2 separate regions of the Homo sapiens genome follow, and region 2 is linked to region 1. The links come from fine-mapping of genetic effects on gene expression. Tissue or cell type: lung. Region 1 holds a variant in brackets; the other region holds the start of a gene. All regions are shown on one strand. Distances are between the middles of the regions.

Region 1 (8,106 bases):
ACTGCCAAGATTAGGGCAACACAGGCCTGGAGAAGGTGTGAGCTCAGTGGGGTTAGAATCCACCACCTTTGGCTTATTATGCTCTTAGTGCTGCTTGTACCAAGTGTTTTTGCCTTACGGCAGAACTGATCCATCAAGGCAAGATCCTAATTGGTTAAAGCCTATCCAGAACTTCTCTCTGTCCACCTTGAAGCTGTAGGGTCCAAAGCAGTAGTCTTATTTTCTTAGCTAGAGAAGTTACATTTCCGATTGACCACACTTGGCCCTTTTTAAAATTGATAAATGCTTCTGAAATAATTCTGACTAGCATCCCTGGTAGTAAACCTCCTTTCAGTTTGGTTTCTTGGAATGGGAGCTGAGAGATGCAACTCTCACTTTGTGTTTTTCTCTTCTGAAAAGCATTTCCTGTGGGGTCGGGTCATGCACTCCATCTCATAGTTAGGGTTTCCAATCAAATGCAGAGCCATGGAGAATTAAACAGAAGAACAGAACAGAAAGGAAAAGCAGTATTCACAAGTTACATCTTAGACCTGTGGCTTCAGTTCTCACAAGGCCTGTTTTTCCCTTGCTATGATCTATGTTTTATACCACATAGAGTAAGAATAATTGTGTTTTTTGTATATGACTGTGTGTTTAGGTAATACCTGATTTAATATTTACCTTTATAATATTGTTTACAGCAATATTTAGAAAAAGTCCAAGGAATTTGTATTTAATGATGTTTTACCCTTTCCTCTCTTCTTTTTTCTTTGTAATTTTAGGAGATTCCTCAACAGCTGAATGGGAGTGATTGTGGAATGTTTACTTGTAAATATGCAGATTATATTTCTAGGGACAAACCTATCACATTTACTCAGGTGAGTGAAGACCCTCTTCATCCATTTACTTGTTACTAAGCAAGATAAGGCACTTGGCCAGTGCCTGGCACACATTCAGCTCTCAATAGTAGTAGCTGGCCAGGCGTGGTGGCTCACACCTGTAATCCCAGCACTTTGGGAGGCCGAGGCGGGTGGACCACCTGAGGTCAGGAGTTCAAGACCAGCCTGGCCAACATGGTGAAACCCCATCTCTACTAAAAATACAAAAATTAGCCAGGCGTGGTGGTGCATGCCTATAATCCCAGCTACTCAGGAGACTGAGGCAGGAGAATCACTTGAACCCAGGAGGTGGAGGTTGCAGTGAGCCGAGGTCGCACCAGTGCACTCCAGCCTGGGTGACAGAGCGAGACTCTGTCTCAAAAATAAATAAATAAAATAAATAGTAGTAGCTGGGCTCATGCCTGTAATCCCAGCACTTTGGGAGGCCGAGGCAGGTGGATCACCTGAGGTCAGGAGTTCGAGACCAGCCTGACCAACATGGAGAAACCATGTCTCTACTAAAAATACAAAAAATTAGCCACGTGGTGGTGCATGCCTGTAATCCCAGCTACTAGGGAGGCAGGCTGAGGCAGGAGAATTGCTTGAACCCGGGAGGTGGAGGTTGTGGTGAGCCGAGATCGTGCCATTGCACTTCAGCCGCCTGGGGCAACAGGAGAGAAACCCTGTCTCAAAAAAAAAAAAAAAAAAAAAAAATAGTAGTAGCTGTGCTATTCTTATTGCTGTAAATCTTGGTTTTAGCCCTACTCCTGCCAGAATCAGGGTTATTTTATCTGCTCTCAGGTTTATCCTAGTCTTTGGTGACACAATGGGCACAATTTGCAAATCTCTGAACTGTGGCATTCATTGGTTCCTGTGTATTATTATTTCTAGCCAAAGAAAGAGGTATGTCAGTGTTTAATAGCAAGGGAAAAATCGGCCTGTGAGAACTGAAGCCACAGGTCTAAGATGTAACTTGTGAATACTGCTTTTCCTTTCTGTTCTGCTCTTTTGTGTTTGTTTTGTTTTGTTTTGTTTTTGAGATGGAGTCTCGCTTTGTTGCCCAGGCTGGAGTGCAGTGGCACGATCTCAGCTCACTACAACCTCTGCCTTCTGGGTTCAAGCAATACTCCTGCCTCAGCCTCCCCAGTAGCTGGGACTACAGGCATGCGCCACCATGCCCAGCTAATTTTTGTATTTTTAGCAGAGATGGGGTTTCACCGTGTTGGCCAGGCTGGTCTCGAACTCCTGACCTCGTGATCCACCTGCCTCAGCCTCCCAAAGTGCTGGGATTACAGGCGTGAGCCACCGCGCCTGGCCTGTTCTGCTCTTTTGTTTAATTCTCCATGGCTTTGCATTTGATTGGAAACTCAAGTATGTTGGGAATTCTTGAGAATTTGTAACAGTGGATTCTCAACCTTTTTACAACTGAGGACAACCTCATTAAAGAATATTTTTCATCCACAGACCTTATTTTGATAGATGTTGTCTACCAAGCAAACTGTATGTATTCCATGAATACAAACTGTAATACAAACTCTATTACGTGAAGTAACTAGGACTCCCGTGCTGAATTAATATAATTCCAGTAAAAAATAAAGGCATTTATTGCTTAGTCTCAGCAGTTTTACTAAGAGCAAATGTGCAGTTTTTACTAGATGTTTTGAACTATTTAAAATAATTTAAGAATCATGTGTTAAGACTTTTTAGCCCCCACCCCTAGGGAGGACATCACTAGTTTATTATTATTATTATTATTATTTTGAGATGGAGTCTTGCTCTGTTGCCCAGGCTGGAGTGCAGTGTGGTGTGATCTTGGCTCACTGCAACCTCCCTCTCAGGTTCAAGCGATTCTTCTGCCTCAGCCTCCCCAGTAGCTGGGACTACAGGCATGTACCACCATGCCTGGCTAATTTTTGTATTTTTAGTAGAGACAGGGTTTCACCATATTGGCCAGGCTGGTCTTGAACTCCTGACCTCAGGTGATCCACCTGCCTTGGCCTTCCAAAGTGCTGGGATTACAGGCATGTGCCACCACGCCCGGTGACATCACTAGTTTATAGTAAGGGACATCCAACTATTTATAATGATACATCAGGAGTGCCTCAATAATGTGAACTTCTTTTTTTGTTTGAGACGGAGTTTCGTTCTTGTTGCCCAGGCTGGAGTGCAATGGCGCAATCTCAGCTCACTGCAACCTCCGCCTCCCGGGTTCAAGCAAGTCTTCCGCTTCAGCCTCCCAAGTAACCGTGATTACAGGAATGCGCCACCACCCCTGGCTAATTTTGTATTTTTAGTAGAGACGGGGTTTCTCCATGTTGGTCAGGCTGGTTTCGAACTCCTGGCCTCAGGTGATATGCCCACCTTGGCCTCCCAAAGTGCTGGGATTACAGGCGTGAGCCACCGCGCCTGGCCAAGAATGTGAACTTCCGTATACACTAGAAGGACTAGTTGTACTACGGGTAATTTTGGAGTTGCTTTTTGTGTTGCTGCTTTGCAAATTGCCCATGTAGTGATTCTCAGTTAAAGCAGAATCATTTATTAAGCAAAACATCTCATTGTTTCATGTTGCCAAATAGCAAAGCAGTTGGCTGTTCTCTGAACCTAATAAGATGAGATTTTAAAGGGAGAAGTTGCTGTTTGAACAGAATTGGCAATGTACAACGCCTGGTAGAGCAGAAAGAAACTTGTAGATTTTGTTGTTTTTTATTTAAATAAATACGTTTTTCTCATAAAAAAACAGAATATGTTCATTTTAGAATGTTTTGAAAATTCATATAAGTAGAAAAGTTGCCTATTGTGCCACCACGTGGATATTTGCAGGACTGTGAAGTTGTACTATACTGTATAATTCTACATCCTGCTTTGGTTTTCCTTAACATATAAAAATGCTTATGGTAGGCCGCCTGTGGTGGCTTTTGCCTATAAATAATCTCAGCACTTTGGGATGCTGAGGCGGGCGGATCACCTGCAGTTAGGAGGTCAAGACCAGCCTGGCCAACATGGTGAAACCCTGTCTCTACTAAAAATATAAAAAATAAGCCGGGTGTGCTGGCACATACCTGTAGTCCCAGCTACGCTGGAGACTGAGGGACAAGAATCGCTCGAACCCAGGAGGCAGAGGTTGCAGTGAGCAGATCGCGCCACTGCACTCCAGCCTGGGTGACACAGCAAGACTCCATCTCAAAAAAAAAAAAAAAGTGCTTATGGTACATATCATGTAATTATGAACTGTTAAAAATGGTTTTATAAGTATGTTCCATGATGTAAAAATGTCAACACTTAGAAAAAGCACATGGACATCCTGCTTTATTACATGATTACACCTGAAGGTTGTGCTGCCATGCACATTAATATGTAATGCGGGCGTTGTTTATGGGGTTCTTTGCAGCACCAGATGCCTCTCTTCCGGAAGAAGATGGTGTGGGAAATCCTTCATCAGCAGTTGCTGTGAGAAAACTTTGCCTGGTCCCTCTAGCTGCTGGTGGTTCTTTCACAGACATTTCCATATACCTCATGCATTGTGGGTTAAAAAGTCCCTGCATCACTTCTGTTCTCACAGGTACTGAGCTGTCAAAAGTGCATGAAGGCCTCTCACTGTACTCTAGTCCTGACTTGGGGTGCAGAGGGCTGCTTGCAATCCTGTTTGTAAGGCTGTGCCTGCTCAGAGCTTTGGACTGTTCAACCCACACAAGAACAAACGCTAACTAATATTTTTTTTAAGAGATTCTTTTCCCTATGAATGTGGGAAATGCAGGATTTATTCTGTGAATTGTTTGTTTCTGTGTGTTTGTTCAGCGTATTCATTCACTCACTCGTTTGCAAACATAATGGGCAGTGGTCATTTACTGCTGCTCTTTTACAGTTAGCTCTAAATTACTTGTTTGAACTATTTATTTCTGAAAGGAATGTTACTCAAGCTGCCACTCCCTGCTGAAGAGCAGGAGGGAACTCTCACTGGGGGCGGAAGGAAGTGGAGCTGGAGCAGTAACTGCCAACATGAAGCTGGAGGGTTTGGGATTTTTTTTGTTTTTGTTTTTTTGAGGCTCAAAAAATGCTGGGAGAAATGAAAATGCTGTGGGATAGGGCTCCTGTTGCCTTTCAGAGGAAGTCTGACACTACAGCGTTGGCACAGTGCCGTGAACAGTGGAACTGTGCCCAAGGGACTCTGA[T/C]TATCCAAGCATCTTCCGAAGAGTGTTGTGGTCACCTTAAAGAGACTTCCCCTTCTGGAAATGTGGTGACTTGGCTTAGTCTTCAAACTGGATTCATGGATTTGAAGTAACTGTAAACCCTAAATCTTCATTTTCATCCCAGATCTGGTTGAGTATAAACCTCAGAATTGTAGGGGCTGGCCTGAGCTGTTTATTTCAAAAGATACTATTCAATTTAAAGCTATTTTTCCTCAGAGTTTTTGTTTTCTATATATTAAGTCTAAATTAAGTTTTCTACTCATTAAGACTAACATCTCCCCACTCCATCCCCACTGAAATTTGTGGAAGAAAATTTAGTACTTGGCTCTGAGGTTGCCAGTTATACAATAATCTATTTTGCATATGAAAGTTTGTATTTAACTTTTTTGTTCATTAAAAACCTTACTGATATGGTTATAACTTCAGACAGTTTAGAGTTGGTCAGAACATATTTTGCAAGATCTAGTGCCTAGTGTTGCTTTTCTGATGTAATAAAAGGTGGTCTGGCAGAACCTAAAAAAGTATATGCTGAAATGATTTCTAACCCTCTCCCTACTTAAACCTCCCAGACTTGTTCTGGTTCATAAAAGCAAGAGGTAAAACTGGAAAAATTGTGCACGTGTTACCTATGAATCTACACGCCTGCCATTTGCAGTGCTCCGGCTGCTGGTCCCAGAGGTATACTGGTTACAGCTATTGCAGCCAGTTCCCTGAGACTTGTAAAACTCCTGGTTTAGGACATGGGGCCTGTGGTGTGGATGGAAAATGCTGGGCCTACTGGATGGTCAGCCAGAGGCCATGTGGTGGGTGATGACTGAAGCGGGAGCAGGTTGTACCACACCTCTCCCCCCCCCCTCCCACTCCCCCTCCCTCCCTCTCCCCTCCCCCTCCCTCCCTCCCCCCTCCCTCCCTCCCCCCCCTCCCCCTCCCTCCCCCTCCCTCTCTCCCTAACACCCACCCTCCCCCTTTCCCCCACCCTCCCCCCTTCTCCCCTTTCCCCACCCTCCCTCCCCCCTTCCCCCTCCCCCCCCCCCCCCCGCAGCCCCTGCTCCTTTCTCTGGGCTCCTGGCATTGTGCCAGTGAGTGCTGGGACCAGGTAATGAGCACAGCCAAAAAGGCCAGAGGTTCACTAGGTCAGCATCATACCAAACGCCTGGCTTTCACCAGGCATCAGTGTGCTTCACTTGAGAGTTTGGTACCATGGTTAAGATCGAGTCCATGCTAGGTAAGTCCTGTTAGGAATGTCAGTTTGTATTCCGCCCACGTGAATGATGCTGAGCTTAATGTATTATTTTGAGGGGCTTCTTCAGAGCAGTTCTCACTGAGCTTTCCATTAACCTACACTCTTCCGGACGGCTCTTAAAACTTGCAGGACATAATGAAATTGGGAAGAGCAGAGTGTTGAAGTCTATAGCATGGCCTTCTGCTTGACCCTGAGTTCCTGAATTGAATGTGGGAGACCACAGGCCATACTTCTCTAGGCACTCACATGTCTCCCTTGGCATAAGGAAACATGTTAGTAATATAGTTTTTTAGATCCAAACAGTTTATTTGGATCTAAAAGTTTAAGTGTTCAGTTGAAAAACAGCTATTGATTTTATTAGTAGCAAATTATCACCATTAAAGCCAGTGGTTTTTTTTTTGTTTTTTTTTTTTGTTTTTTTTTTTTTTTTTTGCGACAGAGTCTCTTGTCGCCCAGGCTGGAGTACAATGGTGTGATCTCAGCTCACTGCAACCTCCGCCTCCCAGGTTCAAGCGATTCTCCTGCCTCAGCCTCCTGCGTAGCTGGGATTACAGGTGCCCACCACCACACCCTGCTAATTTTTGTACTTTTAGTAGAGATGGGGTTTCGCCATGTTGGCCAGGCTGGTCTTGAACTGCTGACCTCAGGTGATCCACCCGCCTCGGCCTCCCAAAGTGCTGGTATTACAGTCATGAGCCACCTCACCCAGCCTGTTTTTGAGACGGAGTTTCACTTTTGTCGCCCAGGCTGGAGTGCAATGGCGCTATCTCAGCTCACTGCAACCCCCACCTCCCAGGTTCAAGCGATTCTCCTGCCTCAGCCTCCCGAGTAGCTGGGATTACAGGCATGTGCCACCACCCCTGGCTAATTTTGTATTTTTAGTGGAGACGGGGTTTCTCCATGTTGGTCAGGCTGGTCTTAAACTCCCGACCTCAAGTGATCTGCCCGCCTCGGCCTCCCAAAGTGCTGGGATTACAGGCGTGAGCCATTGCACCTGTCCCTGCCAGTGTGTTTTTAAAATAGTTTAGGGGGTTGAGAAAAGATGCAGTGAGCCATTATTCTCCTTTAGCAGGTAGTCTCTTAAAAATTGATGTGGATTTTAAAAATATACCATTGAGAACACGTATCTTTCTCAAACTTGACCTTGAACAGAGCTGGATGGGGGTGGGAGGGAAACAGATTTGGGGCATATGGAAGATATTCTTGGGAGCCCCATATTCTACCTCAGTTACCGAAGGCTATTAGAACCTCTGAATTTTTCCTCCTCTGAAATCCTAAGCACAACTTCAGAAAACCATGTCTGATAGCGGATGTCTTCCTGCTGTGAGGAGCTGCTTGATGTGGGGACCAAGGTGTGGGTGTGGGCGGAATGTATCCTAGTAGAAACAGTGAACCTCAGATATGAATAAATAAGCAAGAGACCGAAAGTTAAGTGTGTGACAACCTCAGTACTGTAGTTAAGCTACATTCTTTAAATTAGCTTTTGTGAACTGATTGGGAACCTAATCTCTTTTGTAACTGTTTGAGAAAAACTCTGAAGCACCTGATATTCAAACAAACTTATGGTACTTACTAACTCATTTGTAAATTGGCGATGTAGCTGGCTGTAGTATTGCTTTGATAATTTTTTTCTTTTAATTTACCTAATATATATAAGGAAGGGGTTTGGATATATTAAAATAGGTGTTAATTTTATCTATTTACCAATAAATTCATCTCTTTAATTCAGTGGCTTTCACTTGTTTTTTATTGCAACTCATAGGAATAAGTATTTTATGTTGTGACCACACACACACACACACACAGTGTGATTGTATAT
Region 2 (8,106 bases), 44 kb before region 1:
GTGATCCACCCGCCTCGGCCTCCCAGAGTGCTGGGATTACAGGCGTGAGCTACCGCGCCCAGCCCTCGTCTGGTACTTAAGAAAAACCTGTAATCCCAGCTATTCAGGAGGCTGAGGCAGGGGAATCGTGTGAACCCGGGAGGCGGAGGTTGCAGTGAGCCAAGATCGTGCCACTGCACTCCAGCCTGGGTGACAGAATGAGACTCCGTCTCCAAAAAAAAAAAAAAAAAAAAAAAAAGTACCAGAAGAGTTGGTACCTAGAAAGAAATTAATCTACAGAGTGGTGAATTATGTTGGATTTTAGGCACATTAGGCCTAACCCGACACAACCTCCTCTAGGGGCCCTTACCCTTTCCAACAAATGGCCTAGAATTCTTTTCTGTCCAGGGGTCAGGAAAAACAAAGTTGAGAAGAAGTTTGTTAAAGTTCTCTGAATGCTTTAAAAGGGGAAATTTGCAAGACTAAAGAATGGATTGGAGGGGAGGTAGGTTTGGAGGAAGAAGGGGGTGGGGCCCTGAAAAGGCTTCAAGGAGCTGCTCTGAGCTGAAAGGGGATAAGGATCTTCTTGGAGAACTGGGGCATCTGATTGGAACACCTGCGAAAGCTTAAGCGATGAGGTTGTGCCCCTCTTGCAGTACAAGGCTGCAAATTATCCAAGCCAAGGGCAGAAATCTCAATGTCCTTGTTACTCCATATGGCCTTGGGATTCTCCCATGGCCCTCCAGTAAAGCGCTGCTAGGTCCCGGAAAGGCTGTGGCAGTGGTGGGGTTGGGGTTAAGGATAATCCCACTCCTTGGCCAGTGGATGGACAGTCACCCATGTCTCTACTGTGGACCACAGGACAGCGAAGGCACCAACTGGCAGACAAGTCCCAGGTGGGAGCGAGTATAAGGATGCGTCTCCTTTTCTTCCTTCTAGAGGGTAACTAGGGGGATATGGAGGGAGCATGCACGGTGGGAGGCTGAGGATTGCCACATTCGATTCATGAGTTATTGTTTGCTGATGGGGTCCTGAGATTCTGACTGAGATCTGTAATTCTGAAGCCTTCTCACTCTTCCTGGCAGATGGCCAATGTTTCAGTATTGAGTTTGTAAGGGTGCTATTTATGAGGCAGGAAAAGAAAAAAAAAAATGTGTTGTTGTGTTGCACCGCAGGGCTATCAAGTGTGACCCCAATATATTTCTTTCTTTTTCTTTTTTTTTTTTTTTTTGAGACTATAAATCTCACTCTGTCACTTAGGCTGGAGTGCAGTGGTGAAATCACAACTCACTGCAGCCTTGACTCCCACCTCAGCCTCCCAAGTAGCTGGGACTACAGGCACATGCCACCACTCTTGGCCAATTAAAAAAAAATTTTTTTTAGAGACAGGTCTCCCTGTGTTGCCCAGGCTGGTCTCAAACTCCCTGGCTCAAGTGATCATTCTGCCTGGACCTCCCGAAGTGCTGGGATTACAGGTGTGAGTCACCACACCTAGCTTACCACAGTATTTCTTAAATCTCAGTGGCCAGACCTGGGATAAGTTGCTATTCAAAAGCAGCTTGTAGGTTTTTTGTTTTGTTTTGTTTTGTTTTTGAGACAGAGTCTCGCTCTGTCGCCAGGCTGGAGTGCAGTGGCGTGATCTCGGCTTACTGCAACCTCCGCCTCCCGGGTTCAAGTGATTCTCCTGCCTCAGCCTCCCAAGTAGCTGGGATTACGGGCACGCGCCACCACGCCCAGTTAATTTTTAGTAGAGATGGGGTTTCACCATGTTGGCCAGGATGGTCTCGATCTCTTGACCTCGTGATCCGCCTGCCGCGGCCTCCCAAAGTGCTGGGATTACAGGCATGAACCACCGTGCCTGGCAGAGCTTGTAGTTTTCTGATTTATGTGTGTGTGTGTTTTTTAACTTGGAAAAAAAAATTGTTCTCTTAGGATGTATGATTCGTGTTTAAATGAAGACTGCTCTTTTATTTGGGAGAATCCTCTCCCAGTACTTGAGCGGGCTTCTTGGTTTGGCAAAGGCAAAGCCCAACTCTCAATAGTGAGTGGAAGGGACAGACGTAACTGAACTGCTTTGCACAATAATGCCAATGACTGTCTTTTGTTAATAGGAGTCCTGACTCTTGATTACATTTACGGGGAGTCCAGCCTGAAATAGTCGGGGTAGAGGTAGAGGGAAAAGTCCCTTCTGTTGGCAGCTTGCCAAAGGTGTTACGAGTAAAGGGATGGCCTTGAGGTGAAGGGAATTCCTTTGCGAGACAATAGGCCAGGGACTATAGATGCTACATAATCTAATAGCCACTTCTAAGTCTTCTCAGCTTTGTAATGCCCCAAACTTTCAGCAACAGCCTGGTTGGTGTTTGCTATGCTTAGGGGAATAAGGGAGGCGGGTGTGTCCACACTTAGGATTTGCTTCCATCCTCTAGGATATGACCCCAGCCCCCGAGGCCAGAGTGGTGGTAGCTTCAGGTGTGTGGCTGGTGATTCTGAAGCTCTAGGGGGTGGCTTGCAGCACAATTCTGGAATGCTACATATATATATATATATATATATATATATATATATATATATATATACACACATACACACACACACACACACATACACACACACATGTATTTATTTTATTTATTTATTTTTTGAGACAGAGTCTTGCTCTGTTGCCTAGGCTGGAGTGCAGTGGTGCAATCTCCGCTTACTGCAACCTCCACCTCCCAGGTTCAAGCGATTCTCCTGCCTCAGCCTTCCAAGTAGCTGGGATTACAGGAGTGTACTACCATGCCTGGCTAATTTTTGTATTTTTTTTTTTAGTAGAGATGGGGTTGTCTCACCATGTTGGCCAGGCTGGTCTTGAACTCCTGTCCTCAAGTGATCCGCCTGCCTTGGCATCCCAAAATGCTGGGATTACAGGCGTGTGCCACCACACCCGGCCTGGAATGCTGTCTATTGAGGAAAGGAAGAGGCTGTACTGGGGAGTGCCAGCGTTGAAGTTCAAGCAAGTGTAAAACTCTGGCCTTAACTGAATCACAAGTAGGAAACAAGTTAATCAGGAATGGATTTGTGGGGCATGAAAACCTTTGAGGATTCTTAGGATTGTTTGGAAGAGGGGACTGGATTTTCTATCACTAAATAGGGTGGGATTTGTTTTACAGTTGATAATTTTTTGATGGGGTGCGTCAGGGTCCCACTCTGTCACCCTGGCTGGAGTGCAGTGGCGTGATCACGACTCACTGCAGTCTCAACCTCCTGGGCTCAAGTGATCGTCTCACCTCAGCCTACCAAGTAGTTGGGACTACAGGTGCGTGCCACCACACCCGGCTAATTTTTGTATTTTTTGTAAAGATGGGGTTTTACTATGTTGCACAGACTGGTCTCAAACTCCTGGGCTCAAGCTATCTGCCCACCTCAGCCTCCCAAAGTGCTGGGATTAAAGGCAGGAGCCACCGCGCCCGGCCTATAGTTGACAATTAACTAGAAGTGTGACATTGGAATTATAGAGGGAGAGTAACGAGACTCATTACTTACTAGCCCAGGGTAGGAGACATTAGTGGGCCGCAGGTTTCATCCTTAAATTTCTGTGAAGCCTTTCTTGAGGACATCTGCCCTTTCCTTCTCTCCCTCAGTGTGTGGTTTTCCTTTCTCTGGCTCCCACTGCACTCTGCACATACCTTTATCACAGCAACCACTTACGGTGTATTGTAATTTGTAATTATCTATGTACATGTCTCCAAGTAGACTGACCTCAAGGGCGAGGGACTGGCGCTGGTACTCAGACCCCGGGTTCAAGTTCCAGCCACGTCTCTAGCTAGTTTTGTGATCTTAGACAAATAACTTAATCGCTCTATGCCTCAATTTCCTTGACTTATAAAACTGGCTTAAGACTCTCTGTCACACGCCATTGCTGGGCATATTAAGGTGACAATGCGTGAAAAGTACGAGGCAAAAGGTAAGTGCAAAATAAAGGGCGCCTAAAACGGTAAACGTGTGTTAATTAACCTGATCTACCTTTACATGTGCATTCAGCAAACACTGAGCACCTAATGTCCTCTGGGACCCCGGAACGCCTCCTCCGGAGTGGAGCAGCCTCACATGTGGCCTGTGGGCCTTGTCCCACGGGCCGGCTCCGGATTGGCTCCGCCGAAGAGAAAACCCTGCCGACAGCCCTTCCGATCTCGTCAGCGATTGGGCCGGGACCGTCCCACAATTACTCTTGTTGCTGGGCTCGGAAATAGGGAGCGGTGCTAGGTTGCGCGTGCGCAGATTGAGAATGGAGCTTTCCGGTCGGGCGGGAGGAGGTGACGTCAGGAGTGGTGGCGGGCGGGGGCCTCTGGTAGCCCTGGGGACGCTGTATCTGTGGGCTCTTGAATCGCGTCACAAATCAGCGACCGAACTCTGGCGGTGGTGGTTAAGACGGCGAAGGCGGCAGCGGCGGCGACAGCTCTGGGGTTTGCGTCTCGGGGTGTGTCGGCCGCCGCTGCTGCTTGGGCCTGGTATGTACAGATGGCTGGTTAGGATTCTCGGCACCATTTTCCGTTTCTGCGACCGGTCGGTGCCCCCTGCCCGGGCCCTCCTGAAGAGGCGGCGCTCAGACAGGTGAGACGAGAGGGGGCTGAGCGCCAGCCTGGCCTTACCCCCTCCCCCACAGCGGGCTCCTCGGCCGTGATAGCTTTGATTCAGCCAGGCTCACCCGAAACAGGTCGCCGGGATCCTAGTGACGTAGTCGCTCCCGCCAGGCTGTAGGGAGGCAGCTCCTGATGAAGGAGGAGCTGGTCGTCTTCGTAGCGGCCGGTGATGGCAGGGTCTTTGACATTCTTGTCAGAGGCCAAGCTGGTTGCTGATAACAAATGGGGCTTTGCCGCTCTTAGGCTGAACACTAACATTGAAGGAATACTGTCTTTGTTGTGGCTCACTGTTTACAAAGCACCCTCGCAAGTGTCATCTGCAGACATTAAGTGCAGTTGAAGTGAGATTCATAGCTTGCCCAAAGCCGTTTTGACTGCAAGTACTGTCCTTGCAGCAAGAAACAGCACCTGTTTTGTTCCAAAACAGCTGTCAAACAGTCTGTGTGTTTGGGGCCAGAAGGGTTTTGTGCTTTAGAATTAGTGAATGAGTAAAAAGGCTTAGGTGCCTCACTCCTTTAAAACAATCACTAGTCTGTACTCTTAAATTCGGTTAAAATTTGGGGGAAACGCAAAGCTATTCTTTTCTTTTTTTCTTTTTCTTTTGGTTGAGACGGAGTCTTGCTCTGTCGCCCAGGCTGGAGTGCAGTGGTGCGATCTCGGCTTACCGCAACCTCCGCCTCCTGGGTTCAAGCGATTCCCCTGCCTCAGCCTCCCAAGTAGCTGGGATTGCAGGTGTGCACCACCACGCCTGGCTAATTTTTGTGTTTTTAGTAGAGATGGGGTTTCACTATATTGGCTAGGCTGGCCTTGAACTCCTGACCTCAAGTGATCCGCCCACCCCAGCCTTTGGAAGTGCTGGGACTGCAGGCATGAGCCACTGCACTCAGCCCCAAAAGCTATTCTTATTTAGCATCTACTCTTTGGAGTGTCCCATTTTATTGTATCGACCTCCTTACCTAAAAATCTGGAAAATAAAATACTATACAAATTCTATGCCCCCTCTTCAACTTTAGTGATCAAGTGTTAATTTTTTTTTTTTTTGAGAAGGAGTCTCGCTCTGTCCCCCAGGCTGGAGTGCAGTGGCGCAATCTCGGCTCACTGCAAGCTCTGCCTCCGGGAGTCACGCCATTCTCCTGCCTCAGCCTCCCCAGTAGCTGGGACTACAGGCGCCCGCCACCATGCCCGGCTATTTTTTTTTTTTTTTTTTTTGAGACAGAGTCTCATTTTGTTGCCCAGGCTGAAGTGCGGTGGCACGATCTCAGCTCACTGCAACCTCTGCCCACTGGGTTCAGGCGATTCTTCTGCCTCAGCCTCCGGAATAGCTGGGATTACAGGCGCCTGCCACTGCACCCGGCTTATATTTTTTGTATTTTTTTTAGTAGAGACGGGGTTTCACCATCTTGGCCAGGCTAGTCTTGAACTCCTGACCTCGTGATCCACCCGCCTCAGCCTCCCAAAGTGCTGGGATTACAGGCCTGAGCCACAGCGCCCGGCCACTACCGGCTAATTTTTTTTTTTTTTTTTTTTTTTTTGAGGCGGAGTCTCGCTCTGTCGCCCAGGCTGGAGTGCAATGGCGCGATCTCGGCTCACTGCAACCTCCGCCTTCCAGGTTCACGCCTTTCTCCTGCCTCAGCCTCCCGAGTAGCTGGGACTACAGGCGCCCGCCACCACGCCCAGCTAATTTTTTGTATTTTTAGTAGAGACGGGGTTTCACCGTGGTCTCGATCTCCTGACCTCAGGATCCGCCCGTCTCGGTCTCCCAGAGTGCTGGGATTACAGGCGTGAGCCACCGCGCCCGGCCCTCGCCCGACTAATTTTTTGTATTTTTTAGTAGAGACGGGGTTTCACCGTGTTAGCCAGGATGGTCTGGATCTCCTGACCTCGTGATCCACCCGCCTCGGCCTCCCAAAATGCTGGGACTACAGACGTGAGCCACCGGGCCCGGCCGTTAATTTCATTTTTTAAATTAAGCCTCAATATCAAGAAAAGTGGAAGAAGTGTTCATTTGTGGGAGCTTGAGAGAACAAGATGTCTAATACATTAGTCTGAGAATGCAGGTTATTGATGAGATTGGTTGTTGGCTAAATTGCATCGTGTGTTCCAGAGATACATGGTTTTGCCTTATTTTTCTCTCCTATCTTTCCGTTGGGTTGATATAAGGATCATTTGAGAACGTGGTGTAAAGTGCCTAAACTGATGCTTAATGTATATAAGGGTAGTATTTGTCTGTCCTACTCTGGGGCCTTTTGCAGAGTCTGGTGCATGATAAGCACTTGGTCCCTATTTATGGAATAAGGGAAAGCTAATTTCCTCTCCCTTGTCCTCTCCTTGATGTGAATCCCTGCTAGTCAGTGGAACATGGTTTGGCGATCAAAACCTTGATCTTTACTATACTTTAGGTGTTCACATCCTTAATCCAAAACAACACTTCTCAGTGTAAACCAATTTTCAGTCAAAATGAAGCCCGGCAGGGCTTGTTGGAATGTATAAAGTTATGAGCTGAATGGAATCCTGGGATCTCATTCTATTCATTTTTTTTTTTTGCATGTGTGAATATAATTGATCATAAGGGTTCAGAGAGATGATGAGTAATATACTATGACCCTTTAGCATTCTTGACATCTGGGTCCTGAAACTTTCCTCAATTCCAAAGTTCTTTATTACCATCATAATGTAGTTTGCGTGATAAAAATGAAGTTAAATATAACACTTGATTAAGATTTGTCTTTTTTAAGTTGTAGAACAGTTTTTTTTAACTCCCTTACACACACACAAAAGAAAAAACAGTAAAAAAGAATTGTCTTTTAAGGCTGTTCATATTAATACTGTCACCTAAAGTAAAAGATGGCTTTCTTTGGGGATCATTTTCAAAAGGAAATTGCTTGTTTGTTGTTTTTAAATCATTTCTGGAGCGAAAGAGAAAATACTGTCCTAAACTCTTACCTGGGTTCATTTACTAGCTAAGTGACTTTGGCCAGTTTTAAGTTTGTACTTTAACCAGATGGCAAATTATTATTTGGTAAGAAGTTTGTTTCTCTCTCAAATAGTTGAAACTGTAGCAGTAAGTCTTCGCATGTGAAAAGCCTACTATAGAATAGCATTCTCTCTTTTGTTTTGCTTTTATTTTTAGTTTTATTTCTTTTTAAAACAAGGTCTCACTCTTTTGATTAGGCTGGAGTGCAGTGGCATGACCTGGGCTCACTGCAGCCTTACTTCCTGGGCTCAAGTGATCCTCCTGCCTTAGTGTAGCTGGGACCACACTCACTTACCACCAAGGCTGGCTAATTTTTTATTTATTTTTTTATCGTAGAGATGAGGTCTTACTTTGTTGCCCAGGCTGATGTCAAACTCCAAGGCTCAAGCGATCCTCCCCCTTGGCCTCCCAAAGTGCTGGGATTACAGGCACGAGCCACTGTGTCCCACCAGCATTCTCTTTTAAAACATCAGTTGGATCTCATTTTATGACAAAGTGATAGAAGGGGGATGTGTTATATGAATAGTAAGT

The links. PIP is the estimated chance that this variant, and not a neighbour inherited with it, causes the effect.
Region 2: it holds the start of SENP2, and the variant in region 1 is fine-mapped to the expression of SENP2 in lung (TOPMed, PIP above 0.99).

The regions. Positions count from the first base shown.
Region 1 is chr3:185,625,537-185,633,642 of GRCh38, forward strand. It overlaps SENP2 (SUMO specific peptidase 2), which reads left to right. Exons shown (of 17, transcript NM_021627.3): 16 at 762-857; 17 at 4,246-8,015. The coding sequence ends at 4,308. Among named protein-coding and RNA genes, the nearest start is that of SENP2, 43 kb to the left of the region's middle. The variant T/C (reference allele first, on the strand shown) is at 5,027.
Region 2 is chr3:185,581,943-185,590,048 of GRCh38, forward strand. SENP2 (SUMO specific peptidase 2) reads left to right here and starts at 4,353. Exons shown (of 17, transcript NM_021627.3): 1 at 4,353-4,572. The coding sequence starts at 4,472. RefSeq lists enhancers at 547-1,446, 2,592-3,211, 3,212-3,830, 3,831-4,449, 3,943-3,992 and 1 more.